5 separate regions of the Homo sapiens genome follow, and all the other regions are reported to be linked to region 1. Evidence: microRNA targets listed by miRTarBase, many of them from high-throughput screens and not tested one by one. Region 1 holds a microRNA gene; each other region holds the end of a gene's coding sequence. Distances are between the middles of the regions.
Evidence for each region. Region 1 holds the annotated microRNA hsa-miR-28-5p (AAGGAGCUCACAGUCUAUUGAG, at 963-984, opposite strand). A microRNA usually pairs through its seed, bases 2 to 8, with sites in the 3' UTR of a target mRNA and lowers its output. Matches are read on the target gene's strand: a 7mer-m8 pairs with bases 2 to 8, a 7mer-A1 pairs with bases 2 to 7 and ends in A, and an 8mer does both.

Region 2: miRTarBase lists CD276 as a target of hsa-miR-28-5p. Seed matches in the 3' UTR shown: 8mer at 451-458 and 7mer-m8 at 1,804-1,810.
Region 3: the mRNA of MYH15 is a reported target of hsa-miR-28-5p. Seed matches in the 3' UTR shown: 7mer-m8 at 1,074-1,080.
Region 4: the mRNA of TMED4 is a reported target of hsa-miR-28-5p. Seed matches in the 3' UTR shown: 8mer at 1,725-1,732.
Region 5: miRTarBase lists MSI2 as a target of hsa-miR-28-5p. The part of its 3' UTR that is shown has no 7-base or 8-base seed match.

The regions. Positions count from the first base shown.
Region 1 is chr3:188,686,644-188,689,777 of GRCh38, reverse strand. It overlaps MIR28 (microRNA 28), which reads right to left and starts at 997; the gene lies at 912-997. All of the region lies in intron 7 of LPP (LIM domain containing preferred translocation partner in lipoma), which reads right to left.
Region 2 is chr15:73,712,541-73,715,674 of GRCh38, forward strand. CD276 (CD276 molecule) reads left to right here. Exons shown (of 10, transcript NM_001024736.2): 10 at 394-1,974. The coding sequence ends at 416. Among named protein-coding and RNA genes, the nearest start is that of CD276, 30 kb to the left of the region's middle.
Region 3 is chr3:108,378,607-108,381,740 of GRCh38, reverse strand. It overlaps MYH15 (myosin heavy chain 15), which reads left to right. Exons shown (of 41, transcript NM_014981.3): 41 at 182-1,373. The coding sequence ends at 196. It overlaps LOC124900545 (a long non-coding RNA gene), which reads right to left and starts at 201. Exons shown (of 2, transcript XR_007095998.1): 1 at 90-201.
Region 4 is chr7:44,576,853-44,579,986 of GRCh38, forward strand. TMED4 (transmembrane p24 trafficking protein 4) reads right to left here. Exons shown (of 5, transcript NM_182547.4): 5 at 1,042-2,776. The coding sequence ends at 2,627. Among named protein-coding and RNA genes, the nearest start is that of TMED4, 3.8 kb to the right of the region's middle.
Region 5 is chr17:57,676,613-57,679,746 of GRCh38, forward strand. MSI2 (musashi RNA binding protein 2) reads left to right here. Exons shown (of 14, transcript NM_138962.4): 13 at 375-447; 14 at 2,937-3,134. The coding sequence ends at 416. Among named protein-coding and RNA genes, the nearest start is that of CCDC182, 67 kb to the right of the region's middle. RefSeq lists an enhancer at 1-99.

The DNA of each region.
Region 1 (3,134 bases):
CACTTCTGTGGGTCTCAACTATACCCATTCCTCCGCTCACTTGTGATTCAACAAATATAGTAAAGGGTACTAATTCTTACCATATGGACCTCAGAGAGACTATTAGGAACTGTGAAGTGAGATAATGAACTGTGAAAATTCTCCGAAAACAATGAAATGTCAAACAAACCTGGAGGACATTATGTTGAGTGAAATAAGCCAGGCACAGAAAGATAAATATTGCATGATCTCACTCAAGTGTGGAATCTAAAAAAGTTGATCTCATGGAAGTAGAGAGTAGAATAGTGGTTAACACCTCCTCTAAGCCACTGTGAGAAGGACTCCATCACTTGCAAATACAATTGATTACACAAAGCACAAGCAAGTCAACTTTTCCTGCCAAGAAGATTTGTTGCCCTTGGTGAAATAATAGCATTCTGGCCAGAAAGGAAATTTCATCATTTTCCTATGACTTCGATTCTGACTTTTGCAATATGCATGCCTGGGCTTCAGAGTCCAGAACCCAATTCTGGCCCTGTTAGTTTACAGCCTAGAGCCAGTGATTTGATCACTGACTGAGCTGAGGATAGATTTGCTAACTACCATAGCTGGGTGCCAGGCCGACCCCAGGCTCAAATCCTCCCAACACTGAGGCTGCATAGACAGGCTCTCCAGCCAAGCAGGCAGCAGAAGTGTCCTGAATGTTTACCATGTACCAGGCACAGAGATAGAGGAGGAAATAGCATACACAGAGCTCCTGCTGTGTCAATCACATCTCATTCTTTTCTCGTTTAATCTTTCCCTGATGAGGTAGGCAGTATTAGCTCTGATTTTCAGAGCAGTTAACAGATGTGAACAAAGTTAAAATAATAGAGGCGGGATTGTAATCTAGGATTAACACTGAAATTTAAGCTCTTTTTCAGATGAACGAAAGTGCCTGCCCTCCAGGAGCTCACAATCTAGTGGGAAAGTCAGAAAGGTAACTCAATAGACTGTGAGCTCCTTGAGGGCAAGGACCATTTTAAATTTTTTCTTGTATCTTCAGCATCAAGCATGTTGTCTACCATGCAAAAGGCACTTAATAAGTGCTTGCTGAATAGACAAGCCATATTTAGATGTTGCCCTTCATAAAATACAAACCTAATTATATTACTCATCTGACTTCACAAACCTCTTCTAGCTCCTCTTTGTCAAACTCCTGAGTACTACTTAGAAAGTCCTTGAAGGGCCTGCCTTCATAGTCTCATCTTCTGTGATTCCCTTCCACATCCTCTGTGTACCACACTTCCATCTTCCAACTATCTTGGCATATAGGTGGTGTTCAACAAATGTTCATTGAATGGGCAAACAAAGCCAAGAAGGGATATATCTGCATAACATCAGAGGCATCAATATAATGCCTTATGAACACCAAGGGTAGATTTATCCAACTGAAGGCATCAGGAAGGTTTCACAGAAGACAGGACAATTGATTTGAGTCATTAACTCTAAAATCTCAAAGGCTAGATGACATTGCATAGGGAAAATTCAATCCTCTTTTGCTATTAATTAGGCAAATGACATCATAACAAAACATTTTTCTTTAAACCAGAATATGAGCTGTGCCAAATTCCGTCATCTAAAGGATATGGGTTTAGGCCAAAAGCCCATCATATAGATTATTGTTTTTCTTCTCCCAAGTACTTTGGAAAAACTAAGTCTCATTTGGCATGCAGTGCCTCTCAGCAAGGTCATGGTTCTTCTGCCGTGGTGCCTGGGGCAGTTAAGGTAAGAATTGTGTTTCAAAAAAATACCTCAGACACTGTTAAGAATAAGATAACGTGGTGAAACCCCGTCTCTACTAAAAATACAAAAAAATTAGCCAGGCATGGTGATGGGCGCCTGTAGTCCCAGCTACTCGGGAGGCTGAGGCAGGAGAATGGCATGAACCCGGGAGGTGGAGGTTGCAGTGAGCCGAGATCGTGCCACTGCACCCCAGCCTGGGCGACAGAGCGAGACTTCATCTCAAAAAAAAAAAAAAAAAGAGTATAAGACAGCTGGTTAGACAGGATGACATGGGAATATTCAGAGCTTTGGTCAAGAAATCAGACCAATGAGTCAGTAAGAAAGGGTCATTGAATTACTCCATTTTCACACTGCTATAAAAAACTTCCCTGAGAATGGGTAATTTCTAAAGAGGTTTAACTGACTCACAGTTCCGCATGGCAGAGGAGGCCTCAGGAAACTTAAAATCATGGCAGAAGGGGAAGCAGGCACCTTCTTCACAAGGTGGCAGCAGAGGGAGAAGCGAGCAAGAGCAAGGAAAACTGCCTTAAAAATCTCAGATCTCATAAGAACTCCCTCACTATGAAGAGAACAGCATGGGGGAAGGGCCCCCACGATCCAATCACCTCCCTCCCTTGACATGTGGGGATCACAATTCAAGATGAGGTTTGGGTAGGGACAAAGCCAAACCATATCAGCTAGTAAGAAAGTGGGGGACACTCCCAAATTAGCACTTTCATCCTTGATCCCAGCATTAGAACAGACTATGGTATACCAGGGTGGGGGAGAGAGGAAATCTGCCTCCATCTAGATCACAGGCATCACTGGGTTTGCTCATCTGCAAAATAAAGCAGCTGAAACCGAACTAGATGATCTCCATTACCTGGAAATTGGAAATGAGGGAGCATGGAGAAAAGAGATAAGCTATAACCAGATATATTCATTTAAAGACTCATACACAAGCACAGCAAAGCTGTTGATATTGTGTCCTTTCAGACAGCCTGACATTGAAGCCCTCAGTCAGCACAAATATTTCACTTGAGCACACACATACCAGGTGCCTTAGCTTTTCTCTCAAGTTGAAGTCTTAAAGCCCCTGCCTAATATCTGTTTGAAGATTAGAAGTAGCTTTCACATCCTTGATATCAAGGTCTTCACTCCTTGTTTTTTGTGCTGCTTTTAAATAGCACACTGAGATAACAAATGCAGGAGAAGCAAGGCTTCAACTAGATGCACACTTGTTGAGTGCTTGTTTTATGTTGATTCTTCCCATACTCACCATCAGAGCTTTCCCATGGCCTCCCTCGGCTTCCCATCTTCTATCTAAATCATAGATTCTTAGTCTTGGCTGCCCATCAGAATCACTTGGGAAGCTTAAAGCATAACAGTGA
Region 2 (3,134 bases), not on the chromosome of region 1:
GGGGACACTGGGAAGGCTGCCTGCTGGACGAGGGAGTTGGGCCAGGCCTTGGAGGGTGGATGGGATGGACAAACAGGAGATGAGAAGGGAAAAGTGTTGCACGTAGAGGGAGAGTGGAGGGAAGTGTATCGGGCTGTGGGCCTGTGGGTACTGAGAGGGGGCTGCGTGAGGTGGTCCCCCTCAGGTGCCCCGGCGTGCCTGGCACCTGCATCTGTGTCTGGGCCTCCAGGGCCGTGGTCAGCACGGGGGCTGTCCGTTGGGCTGCTGTCTCACACACACTCCCCACTTGAAGTCTGACCAGGTGCTTGGGCTTCTGGCATAATCCCAAAAATAGATCTTCTGGCATCTAATGCTTTTCCCTTCCCTTTTTTTTCTTCCCATCATGAAATGAAGATGATGGACAAGAAATAGCCTGACCATGAGGACCAGGGAGCTGCTACCCCTCCCTACAGCTCCTACCCTCTGGCTGCAATGGGGCTGCACTGTGAGCCCTGCCCCCAACAGATGCATCCTGCTCTGACAGGTGGGCTCCTTCTCCAAAGGATGCGATACACAGACCACTGTGCAGCCTTATTTCTCCAATGGACATGATTCCCAAGTCATCCTGCTGCCTTTTTTCTTATAGACACAATGAACAGACCACCCACAACCTTAGTTCTCTAAGTCATCCTGCCTGCTGCCTTATTTCACAGTACATACATTTCTTAGGGACACAGTACACTGACCACATCACCACCCTCTTCTTCCAGTGCTGCGTGGACCATCTGGCTGCCTTTTTTCTCCAAAAGATGCAATATTCAGACTGACTGACCCCCTGCCTTATTTCACCAAAGACACGATGCATAGTCACCCCGGCCTTGTTTCTCCAATGGCCGTGATACACTAGTGATCATGTTCAGCCCTGCTTCCACCTGCATAGAATCTTTTCTTCTCAGACAGGGACAGTGCGGCCTCAACATCTCCTGGAGTCTAGAAGCTGTTTCCTTTCCCCTCCTTCCTCCTCTTGCTCTAGCCTTAATACTGGCCTTTTCCCTCCCTGCCCCAAGTGAAGACAGGGCACTCTGCGCCCACCACATGCACAGCTGTGCATGGAGACCTGCAGGTGCACGTGCTGGAACACGTGTGGTTCCCCCCTGGCCCAGCCTCCTCTGCAGTGCCCCTCTCCCCTGCCCATCCTCCCCACGGAAGCATGTGCTGGTCACACTGGTTCTCCAGGGGTCTGTGATGGGGCCCCTGGGGGTCAGCTTCTGTCCCTCTGCCTTCTCACCTCTTTGTTCCTTTCTTTTCATGTATCCATTCAGTTGATGTTTATTGAGCAACTACAGATGTCAGCACTGTGTTAGGTGCTGGGGGCCCTGCGTGGGAAGATAAAGTTCCTCCCTCAAGGACTCCCCATCCAGCTGGGAGACAGACAACTAACTACACTGCACCCTGCGGTTTGCAGGGGGCTCCTGCCTGGCTCCCTGCTCCACACCTCCTCTGTGGCTCAAGGCTTCCTGGATACCTCACCCCCATCCCACCCATAATTCTTACCCAGAGCATGGGGTTGGGGCGGAAACCTGGAGAGAGGGACATAGCCCCTCGCCACGGCTAGAGAATCTGGTGGTGTCCAAAATGTCTGTCCAGGTGTGGGCAGGTGGGCAGGCACCAAGGCCCTCTGGACCTTTCATAGCAGCAGAAAAGGCAGAGCCTGGGGCAGGGCAGGGCCAGGAATGCTTTGGGGACACCGAGGGGACTGCCCCCCACCCCCACCATGGTGCTATTCTGGGGCTGGGGCAGTCTTTTCCTGGCTTGCCTCTGGCCAGCTCCTGGCCTCTGGTAGAGTGAGACTTCAGACGTTCTGATGCCTTCCGGATGTCATCTCTCCCTGCCCCAGGAATGGAAGATGTGAGGACTTCTAATTTAAATGTGGGACTCGGAGGGATTTTGTAAACTGGGGGTATATTTTGGGGAAAATAAATGTCTTTGTAAAAAGCTTTTTCTCTGTGAAGTGTTTGGAAGCAGGGTGGGCCCCAGGACTCAACCAGCAGGATTCTCTCCTGGATGTTGCAGGCTGGGGTAGGGAAGCCTGGCCCTCCTTATCTCACCGTCCTTAAATCACTGGATCCCCAAGGCCATTTGGCTCCCTCCTTGGCTTCAGTTTCCCTCTGGGTAAAGTGAAGTTGGTTGTCCAGAAAGCCAGGCCCTTTGGTCACTGTATGGGGCTCCTCCCACTGGAAGCATCACTCAATTTCTTTGCCTCAGAAAACTCAAACCTAGGCTTGTTTAGGGCCTCTACTAATGAACCCATTTTAGAGACTGTGAAGCTGAGACCCAGTAAGAAGCTGGCACCAGGAAAAGAGTTCTGAATGCTGTTTCTGGCTGACTCAATTGGATGGGCACCAGGCCAGGGATCAGAGGTCCATTCCCAGGACATAGTTCTGCCCTATGACCCTGAGCAGGACATTTACCTTCTCTGAGCCTTGGCTTTCTTGTACAAAAAATAGCCACCTATGCATAGTGGCTCATGCCTGTAATCCCAACACTTTGGGAGGCTGAGGTGGGAGGATCGCTTAAGGCCAGGATTTCAAGACTAGCCTGGGCAACATAGCAAGACCCTGTCTCTGCACAGAAATAAAAAATTAGCGAGGTGCGGTGGCACCCACCTGTAGTCCTAGTTACTCAGGAGGCTGAGGTGGGAGGATCGCTTAAGGCCAGGATTTCAAGACTAGCCCGGGCAACATAACAAGACCCTGTCTCTGCACAAATAAAAAATTAACTACAGGCACACACCTGTAGTCCTATTACTCAGGAGGCTGAGGTGGGAGAATCACTTGATCTTCAGCCCAGGAGGTCGAAGTTGCCATGAGCTGTAATTGTACCACTGCATTCCAGCCTGGGCAACAGAGCAAGACTCTGTCTCTAAAGAAAAAAAAAAAAGAAAAGAAAAATAGGACTGAGGTTTTAACTACCTTCCATTTTGAAAGACTGAGAGGAGGCGCACAGGCTTCCAGAGAGCCAGATTCAGGGCTATGGGAACCTGCCTAGGATACTGCGTTCGCTTGCCCCTGGATGACAGTGTCCTGGCACTGGGACAGCCTGGAGCTTTGCAGACCCTGGGCAGCAGGAGGAGCCTGTGCTGGGGGTGAGGACAC
Region 3 (3,134 bases), 80 Mb from region 1:
ACCAGGGTCTGCTTTCTGTAATGCAGATAATTGCCTCAATTCCCTGCCTCCCTTTGAAGTTAATGAAGAGTTGGCTAAGGCCTGCTTACCTCTGGAAGGGACTCAGCTTGGTTCTGGACATGTGTTCCACTGGTGAAAATCACAGGAAATTCACAGAACACACTGACATTCTGTTTTTCAGGTTCAAGAAGAATAGCATCCCCTGCTTTGAAAGGACAACAGCTGGAGAAGTACAAGGAAGGTGCTGTTTCATGGCCAAAAACTTAGGTTGCATGGAAACATTTTTAAAAACATGTTTAAATTGCTTTTCACACCATATAAACAAGGCAATTAGAAAAATAATTAAAGGGAATATCATTGCTTCCACAGTTAATGGGGATTTTTTGATCCTCAAATGCAAGTAAACTACCTTCTAATGCTTCACATGACAGATTAAATAAATGGAAGAACCTTTTCAATTCTGATGTTTAAAAAATGAATAAATACTTGATCCTTTGTCCATATTTCCTCTTAATGGGTAGGACTCATAGAAGATGTCCTTAGACCAGTCACGCTTCATGGGGACTAGGGCATGTTGGTGAATGGTTTTTACTAAAGTTAGGCAACTTTGGCTTGATTCACCCCTAAATCTATGAATGTATATTGTGAGCCAGCAGTGGTAGAATGGAAGTCATAAGATCTCCTCAGCATTGTGATATAAATATAGCTATAGTTAGGCAATTTGAACATGTAGGCAAAACTCTCCTAATCAACACACATGTAGGCTATATGCTGGTACATGCTTTAAACATGGAGGTAACCCCACACGAGACATTCAGTGACAGGTAATATGCTGGATTTGTGCAGTACCGATTTGGCTCAGCTGGAGGAACATGTCCCGGAATTCCTCTCTCTCATGGTTCTGGATTGGAGTAGGTCATAAAGAAATTTGCATTAATTTGATCAGCAGCTATTTTATACTCATAAGGTCAGTGTACAGACCCAAGCATGGTGACAGCTTGAAAATATGACTCCAGGCCAAAAAGGGGAGCTAGAAGAGACCAGAGACAGCTCCCTGGACCCAGAGCTCTTCCAGCTCCTGCCAGCCTCCTCCTTCAGCTTTGCAAAGTACTGGCCAGGTGTGTGTGCAGCTCCATGGCAACCAGCATCAGCTTTTCCTGAGATCACACACAGCATTGCAGTGGAGGCCGTGAGACAGACATGGGTTCTGTTTGTTCTTATGGACTTCCCTTCATCCTTGCTGCATTCACAGTCGACCTACAGTGACTTCAGGCCCAGAACCAGATGCAGAGGGAACAGCCTGGCCTAGACTTCTCCACCAGCACCCACAATTGTGTAAGGCTGAAGCTCTATAATAAATCTTTATTCTGTCATTCTCTGATTCTGCCTCCCTGATCCAACCCTGACTCATATGGGTAGCTTGACGATTAATTCAGGGACTCAGTGGTATCAGAGGACCCAGGTTCATTCTTGTCGGAATCTCTTGTCGCCGTAAGAGGACTTCAGCAGTCCTGAGCATTTTCTCCCCATACGATAACCTGTCTCTTCTTAAAATGGAGAAACACTTTCCCAGAAACAGACCTCTGGAATAATTTTCCTCATACCCTAGTGAGCAGATTTCTTTATCTGCTTATGCTGAACCAGTCTAGTGGCAAGAGGACTGCAATTGTCAGGGTTGGCTCAGACAGATCAAAGTGGATGCTCTTGAAAAATCAGGGTACCATTTTGAGCAAGGTGAACCAAATTTGAGTTTTGTGGTTGGCGGAGAGGGATGCACAGCCACAGAGTGAACTAGCAGGTATGTGTGTCGGGCTGTATCCAAAGCAGTCGCTCCTTCTTACCATCGGTCTTAACGCAATGAGAAAACAACATGAAACATTTAACATGGAACTTTTCTAGGGTTTTTTTTTTTTCCTGGAATAGTAATTTTTTAAAACTTCAGTAAAAAATGTTTGGAATTATCCTTTAATAAGCCAATGTTTATATTCAGGAAACATCTCTATATCCCAAACCTTTTCTTAGAAATTTGCTGTTGTCATATTACCAATCCTGAAGTTAGGATGCTATTGTTTCTCCACACCCCAGGCACATACTCAGTAAAGTAAAACTTCAGCTTGGGGATGCATCCAGTTTTGTTATTAAGTATCATGTTCTCTCACTAGGACACAATTTTTAAAAAGGAACCAAGGCTAGGGGGAAGCAGAGATGGTAGACAAATATTATCTCAATGGAGTTTTTCTTCACAATGGAATTTTTTTAAAAGATATCTAAGTTATATTTATTTTTTTAAAAAAAATTTACTTTAAGTAAGTTCTGGGATACACGTGCAGAACATGCAGGTTTGTTACATAGGTATATGTGTGCCATGGTGGTTTGCTGTACCTATTGAACCGTCCTCTAGGTTCCCTCCCCCGCCCCCCACCCTGCAACAGGCCCTGGTGTGTGTTGTTCCCCTCCCTGTGTCCATGTGTTCTCCTTGTTCAGCTCCCACTTATGAGTGAGAACATGTGGTTTGGTTTTCTGTTCCTGTGTTAGTTTGCTGATAATGATGGCTTCCAGCTTCATCCATGTCCATGCAAAGGACATGATCTCATTCCTTTTCATGGCTGCATAGTATTCCATGGTGTTTGTATCACATTTTCTTTATCCAGTCTACCATTGATGGGTATTCGGGTTGGTTCCATGTCTTTACTATTGTAAATAGTGCAATAAACATACATGTGCATGTGTCTTTATAGTAGAATGATTTATAATCCTTTGGGTATATACCCAGTAATGGGATTGCTGGTTCAAATGGTATTTCTGTTTCTAGATCCTTGAGGAATCGCCACACAGTCTTCCACAATGGTTGAACTAATTTACATTCCCACCAAGAGTGTAAAGGCATTCCTGTTTCTCCACAGCCTTGCCAGCATCTATTGTTTGACTTTTTAATAATTAACATTCTGACTGGAATTCTTAATACTTTGCTATTTGTGATAACCCATCACAACATTGTAGCAAAAACAGAGTTAACTACATACAAGGAGAGGATTGTGAAACTGAGGTCAGATAAAATTGGACCAGGTGGCAGTTACACCACAATTCAGAATTTGCTTTCTCTTATAGAGTTGAAACCTTGATCTACTAAGTCA
Region 4 (3,134 bases), not on the chromosome of region 1:
GGCCCTAAATTGCATTTTTTTTTTTGTTTTTTTTTTTCAGATGGGATCACTGTTGCCCAGACTGGAGTGCAGTGGCACGATCATGGCTCACCGCAGCCTTGACCTCCCGGGCTCAAGTGATCTTTCCACCTCAGCCTCTCAAGTAGCTGGGACTATAGGCATGTGCCACCAGCTAAATTTTTTGTATTTTTTGCAGAGACAAGATTTCGCCATGTTGCCCAGGCTGGTCTCGAACTCCTGGGCTATAGGGATCCACCCACCTTGGCTTCCCAAAGTGCTAGGATTACAGGCGTGAGCCACCGTGCCCAGCCCACATGTATTTTTAAGAGTAAAAATAGCCAGGCACAGTGGAGTATACCTGTAGTACCAGCTACTTGGGAGGGTAAGGTAGGAGGATCACTTGAACCTGGGAGCTCAAGGTTGCTTTGAGCTGTGATGGCACCACTGCACTCCAGCCTTGGGGACAGAGCAAGACCCCATCACCTGTGCCCGGCCAGCTCACACCTGTAATCCCAGCACTTTGGGAGGCGAGACGGGTCACCTGCGGTCAGGAATTCAAGACCAGCCTGGTCAACATGGTGAAACCCTGTCTCTACTAAAAATACAAAAATTAGCTGGGCATGGTGGCGGGCGCCTATAATCCCAGCTACTCGGGAGTCTGAGGCAGGAGAATCTCTTGAACTCAGGAGGTGGAGGTTGCAGTGAGCCAAGATTGCACCACTGCACTCCAGCCTGGGCGACAGAGTGAGACTCCATCTCAAAAATAAATAAATGAATAAGATAAAATAAAAATACAAAAATTAGCCGGGTGTAGTGGTGGGTGTCTGTAATCCCAGCTACTCAGAAGTTGAGGCAGAACTGCTTGAACCCGGGAGGCAGAGGTTGCAGTGAGCCAAGATCATGCCACTGCACTCCAGCCTGGGCGACAGAGCAAGACTGTCTCAAAAAATAAAATAAATAAAAATTTTAAAAATACATAAATATATATATAAATAGGTACATATATGGTATAGGACATAAGAAATAACAAAAGGAGAAGAATTTAGTTCTGTAGGTCAGATAATTTAATAAATATTTCAAATAAATATATAATAAAAACTGAAATAAAATGTCAAGAATGGGGAACTAATGGTATTAAGTTTTATATAGAAGGGCATGAGGGAAGTGTATTAAAATTTGTTCAAATTTATGACTGAGAGGGCTAAGAAGGTACTTAATTTCCTCAGATGATACTTTGCGAACATGTGGTCTATTTGGTTGACCTTTGCAAATAGTTGAACAACCACACCGTGTATTCCCATACCCCCTAGACTGCCTGTCCAGGCCAAGCCTTAGTACCACGAGTCCACAGTGAAGTCCACTCCAGGTTATCTGCATAGGTAGCCCAGGCACCTTTCCTCTTTTCCTTTAGGTGCCTCCCCTCTACCCACAACCTCTTATTTCATCTCAAACACAGCTATTACAACATGTTTTATTTCACTGGAAAATTCTGTAAAGAACTAAATCTGGTTCCCTTGAAGAAAACATTTAGCACAGCTTAAATAAAAGTTGAGAAGGAGGGTAAGAGTGCATTGCCCCATTCTAGCTCTGTTGCTACCTTACCTCTGACTCTAAGGCCCTGTGGGATGAAAAGCAGGTATCCAAAAGAACTCTGCTTGGCCCTCTGATACGGCCTTGAGGTCAGCCCTGGTGCCTGCTTTCTGGCCCACAGACCGCTGAAATCCTAGGAGCTGCCATGGGAGTTACCAAAAATATGTGAATAAACTGAATGCAGAGGCTGAGGCAGGTGGATCAACTGAGGTCAGGAGTCTAAGACCAGCCTGGCCAACATGGTAAAACCCCATCTCTACTAAAAATACAAAAATTAGCTGAGCGTGGTGGCGGGCACCTGTAATCCCAGCTACTCAGGAGACTGAGGCAGGAGAATCATTTGAACCCGGGAGGCAGATGTTGCCAGTGAGCTGAGATCACGCCATTGCACTCCAGCCTGGGCGACAAGAGCAAAACTCAAAAAAAAAAAAAAAAAAAAAAAAGGAAAAACAAAACCCAGAATGCAGAAACTGCATTGGTATTTTGAGCTAGTTACAGGCAGTAACACTTCTACTAGGAAGGAAAATATATAATTTATCCAAAAATAGTTCTAAGATTTAGAAAAACATCTCAATCCTCTAGGGCCAAGACCTGCCCCTTATTTACATTCACAAAGCCATTAAGTGAACCCAGAACTGACCAGCAGACAGTGAGGCAGGGCCTGCTCTGTGGCACATGCCAGTCACCTACTGCGTAAGTGGACAAAGAGAAAGCAGAAGGTAATGGAGAGAGTTTTCATTTGCTTATTTAGTGAAAAACAGAGGAAAATCACTCGAGGCAAAAGAAGCAGGACTGAGTCCTGGGTTAGTTCTGATTCCTCACAAGCCCTAAGACAAGATTTTGAAAGATTGGACTAATGTCATGTGTCCTTAAGAACCAGGGTCAGCAAGTGGCTGATCTGAATGGTTTGTGGCCATGGAACCAATGTGACTTATTCTTTTTCATTTTTTTCCCTAAAAATCCAGGTGGATAAAGGACTGTGTGGGGAAAGTACCAAATAAATGAGGTAAAAAGGAAGGGTCATACAAAGAGGGCACTACACCAGCTTCTTGGCCTCAAAGAAGCTCTTGAGGTGACGCATCTGCCAGATGCCAGTGAGGATGAGGATGACAGTCTGAGCAATGGACCACCATAGGACCCTCTGGTTGGTGCTCTCGCTCGTCAGTCGGAAGCGCTCTTCACGATACTGTGTGGGGCAACACAGGGTTAAGTGAGCAGGAGAAACAGTCTGGCTGTTGTGAGGTCCCTCCCTGCGTGTAATTACTCAACTCCAGGACCAAACTCCTTTTGGAATACTATCTGTGACTCCATTAGGAGTGCTATGGTCTCCCCACTGAGGCTGCCCCAAGAAAGGGACAGGCTGTCCCTCCACAAGCATCTCTGTTAGGACTGAAATCATGATCCTACCATTTCCAACAAGAGTCCAAGAAAAACAGGTAGGCAATGGCTATTACTAGATTGTGAACTGTCCTTTCTTCATTTTATTTTATAGAGCTTAAAAATGACTACTGAAAGCGAAATGTGGCACATGCATACAATGGAAT
Region 5 (3,134 bases), not on the chromosome of region 1:
GGGATTTCTTCTCCCCAGCTAGAGCCGTTGGGACTGCGGACAGAGACTTATCTTTGCACTCTGGGGTTCAGGGCAACATGCCCATCACTGGGGGCACAAACCCCCGTTTCCCACCATCCACCCACGCCTCTGAATCTGGCTTTTGGTTTCCCCCGGGGTAAGCAGATAGGCTTGGTAGGGGCGGAGGGAGTGGGGACTAGGGATTTGGAGCTGAGGAGGATGTCATCCTGGCCCCTCATGGCACGGTGTCTCAGAATTACATATTCATGCTGGCAACCACAGAACTAGTCCTAGAGATAATTTCCTTTCCCAGAATATGACAATCTGTTCCCATGTATAGCACACTGATGACCTTAACAATTGTGCAATTTTAGGGACCTTTGATTGCAACGGCCTTTACAAATGGATACCATTGAGCAGGTGCTTTCGTTGCCATCTCACTCTGAGGTATTACCGTCTCTGCCATGTGTCTCTGCCCTGCCGGTGTGTCCGTACATGTATGTCCACAGGTCATACATGCACGTGCGTGCCCCTGTCTCATCACATCCACATCTCTCTCTCCTCTTTCTGGACCCCTTTTCAGGAGGGTGGGGGCAAAAGCAAATCCAGTCGTTTAATCTCTCATCTCTTCCTCCAGCTTTTAATCATGACCCCCACCTTTTTGACTCTCTCTCTTTTTTTCTTGATTTGGTTCTTTGGATTCTTTTTCTGTATCTTCCCCACCCTTCATCTTTCTCTGTCTTGAAATACAATCAAGAGTGTGGGAAACTGGAAGGAGATCTCGTGCTGTGCCCGTCCCAGGGGGATAGAGGCAGGGAAGCATTGGGCTTCTGCTAGGCCTGGAAGCAGGGATGGGGGCCAGGGCCACCCACTCCTGGAGGTCCTTTGAGCTGGCCCTGTGGGTTGCTGGGCCCCTTCAGCTCCCCAGGCCTTGCTGGGGCTCAGCCAATGGGGTTCATGCAGTCAAACAGCCAGACTCCATCTTTTAGTGAAAAGAAAACGTTTTTGCCAGTAACTACTGAGTAATTATCCAGATTACTGCACGAAAAGCAAATTAAATTAACGACATCACCTGTGTAACATGGATTTGGATCCCTGCCAGTTTCCTAACCTTTTAAACTGAGCTCAAGTTAATTAAACATTTTTTCAATCACTTTGATGGGGATATGGGGGAGGACGGAAGAGAGGAGAGGGAGGTTGGGGCAGTGAGGAAGCCCCTTGCCACACACTCCTTTGGAAATGAGTATCTGTCCTTCTTGGGAAGAACACCAGCAAGGGAGAGGGGTTGTCCTTGTGAAAGCGCTAGATGTGTACTGTGTTAGCACGTTAAGTTTGTGAGGTTGGAACATGGATCTGTCTCTGGAAAAGAGAGGGTGACAGCTGAGGCCAGGGAATGGATTCCACTCGGAAAATCCCACAGAGGCACCAAAGCCTTTCAATCTTGGAGTTGGGATGTAGGAGAAGCAAGGCTGGAGATGAACTGGCCACTTTGGGCTTGCACTTCATTGGATGCCTCTCTCGTAGAGAGGGATTGCTCCTGGCTCCTGAGTCGGACCAGGTGGAGAACTGGGTTGAGTTGAGCTCCATAAATCTCTTGGATTTCTCTAATGTTGCTGCTAAGGGATCACCTCAACTAACGCAACTGCCTCTCTTAACCAAATAAACCATGTGTGTGAATTCTCCCACCCCTCGCCTCCACTTCCCCTTGAGCACTGACCCAGCCATTGCTGGCCAGAGCCAGAGGCCACTAACAGTTTGAAGGAAAGCTACTTGCTACTAATTAAGCTGGGTTTGGGGACCCAGAGGAAGTAAGGTTTCTCTGAGAACAGGGACAACTGGTATCACCAAGAACTCTGGAGACTGAAGATGGCTCCAGCCCTTTGTGGAGTCAGATGAAGAGGGGGTTAAACAACTACCAGGCACAGCAGACCCTTGAAAGGCCAGACACTGGGGCTGCCTGTGCTCCCTCCCTCCCTCCCCTGGAAGAGAAGGAGTGGTGCAGGGCTTCCTGCCCACAGCTCCATATAACCCCAAGGCCACTAAAGCCTTTCCATAGGGGTGGGGTGGGGTGGAATGGGATGGGGGAGGCTGCTACCAGCCCATCCTCCCTCATCTAAGTCTAGGACTCAATTTCCAGAGAAGGATGAAGTAACCAAGAGTGTGGTAGCAACTCACCCCCTTCCAAAATGGATTAGGTGAGCTCATAGAGTCAGATGGCTGCACCCGCAGCACTTAGGAAGGACTGGTCAAACACACCCATTGTCCCCAACCCTCTGACATTCAGCGCCATCCACAAAAGAGGAGCCCAGGCCCCCTACTCCCAGTCAATTCAGGGAGACTCAGTAAACACATCTGTGAATCCTGGGCCTGTTTTTGTTTCCTGTAACCAAAGCCGGTTATTTGTTGTATATTTTTAGTGTCATGACCTTTAGTTTTTGGTATATGATATGATCTTTTAGTGTAAGTTTGCATTTAAAAGTTATCGATGGGTATCTAATAAAGGCAAGTTTGTGGGGTTTTTTTTGTTTGTTTGTTTGTTTTTTTAACATTTAGCTTTGAAAACAGAAGTTTAAACAGAAAAAAGGTATCTCAGGTCAATGGGCAGTTTGCCCACCTGGCTGCAATCCCTGTAAGCACATTTCCCACCACTACCTCAACAACCCTATGGTACTATATCAAATCAGCAAAAGAATTGAAGCCTTGTCCTCTCCCCAGTGTCAGGTATGGTTTAGATGTCAGATTTCCCAACCTGTGATCTCAGTAAGCTTCTAGCCAGGTGATTCTCGTGCGTATTCAATAGTCCAGTGAAGTCCATCTTTGAAACTCTAGTTAAAACAGTGGAGGAAATCGCATACTTGTCTGACACTTCTTTCTCCTCCCCTCTCCCCTCCATTTTATGTTTTCTTCTGGACATCCTGGCCTTCCCTGCCCTGCAGAGCATACCTGGATGTCCAGGCAAGACTGGGCGAAGTTTCTGAGTGGCCCTTTGTTTAGGTGATGTCCTCAGACCTGGACCCCCACCAGCCTCACTCCCCATCCCAACCAGAGATGGCTCACTTCGGATCGAGGGTTGACTACATCTCATCATCTCACGAATCTGCTGTAATATAAGACAACAGCTTTTAAATGTGTAT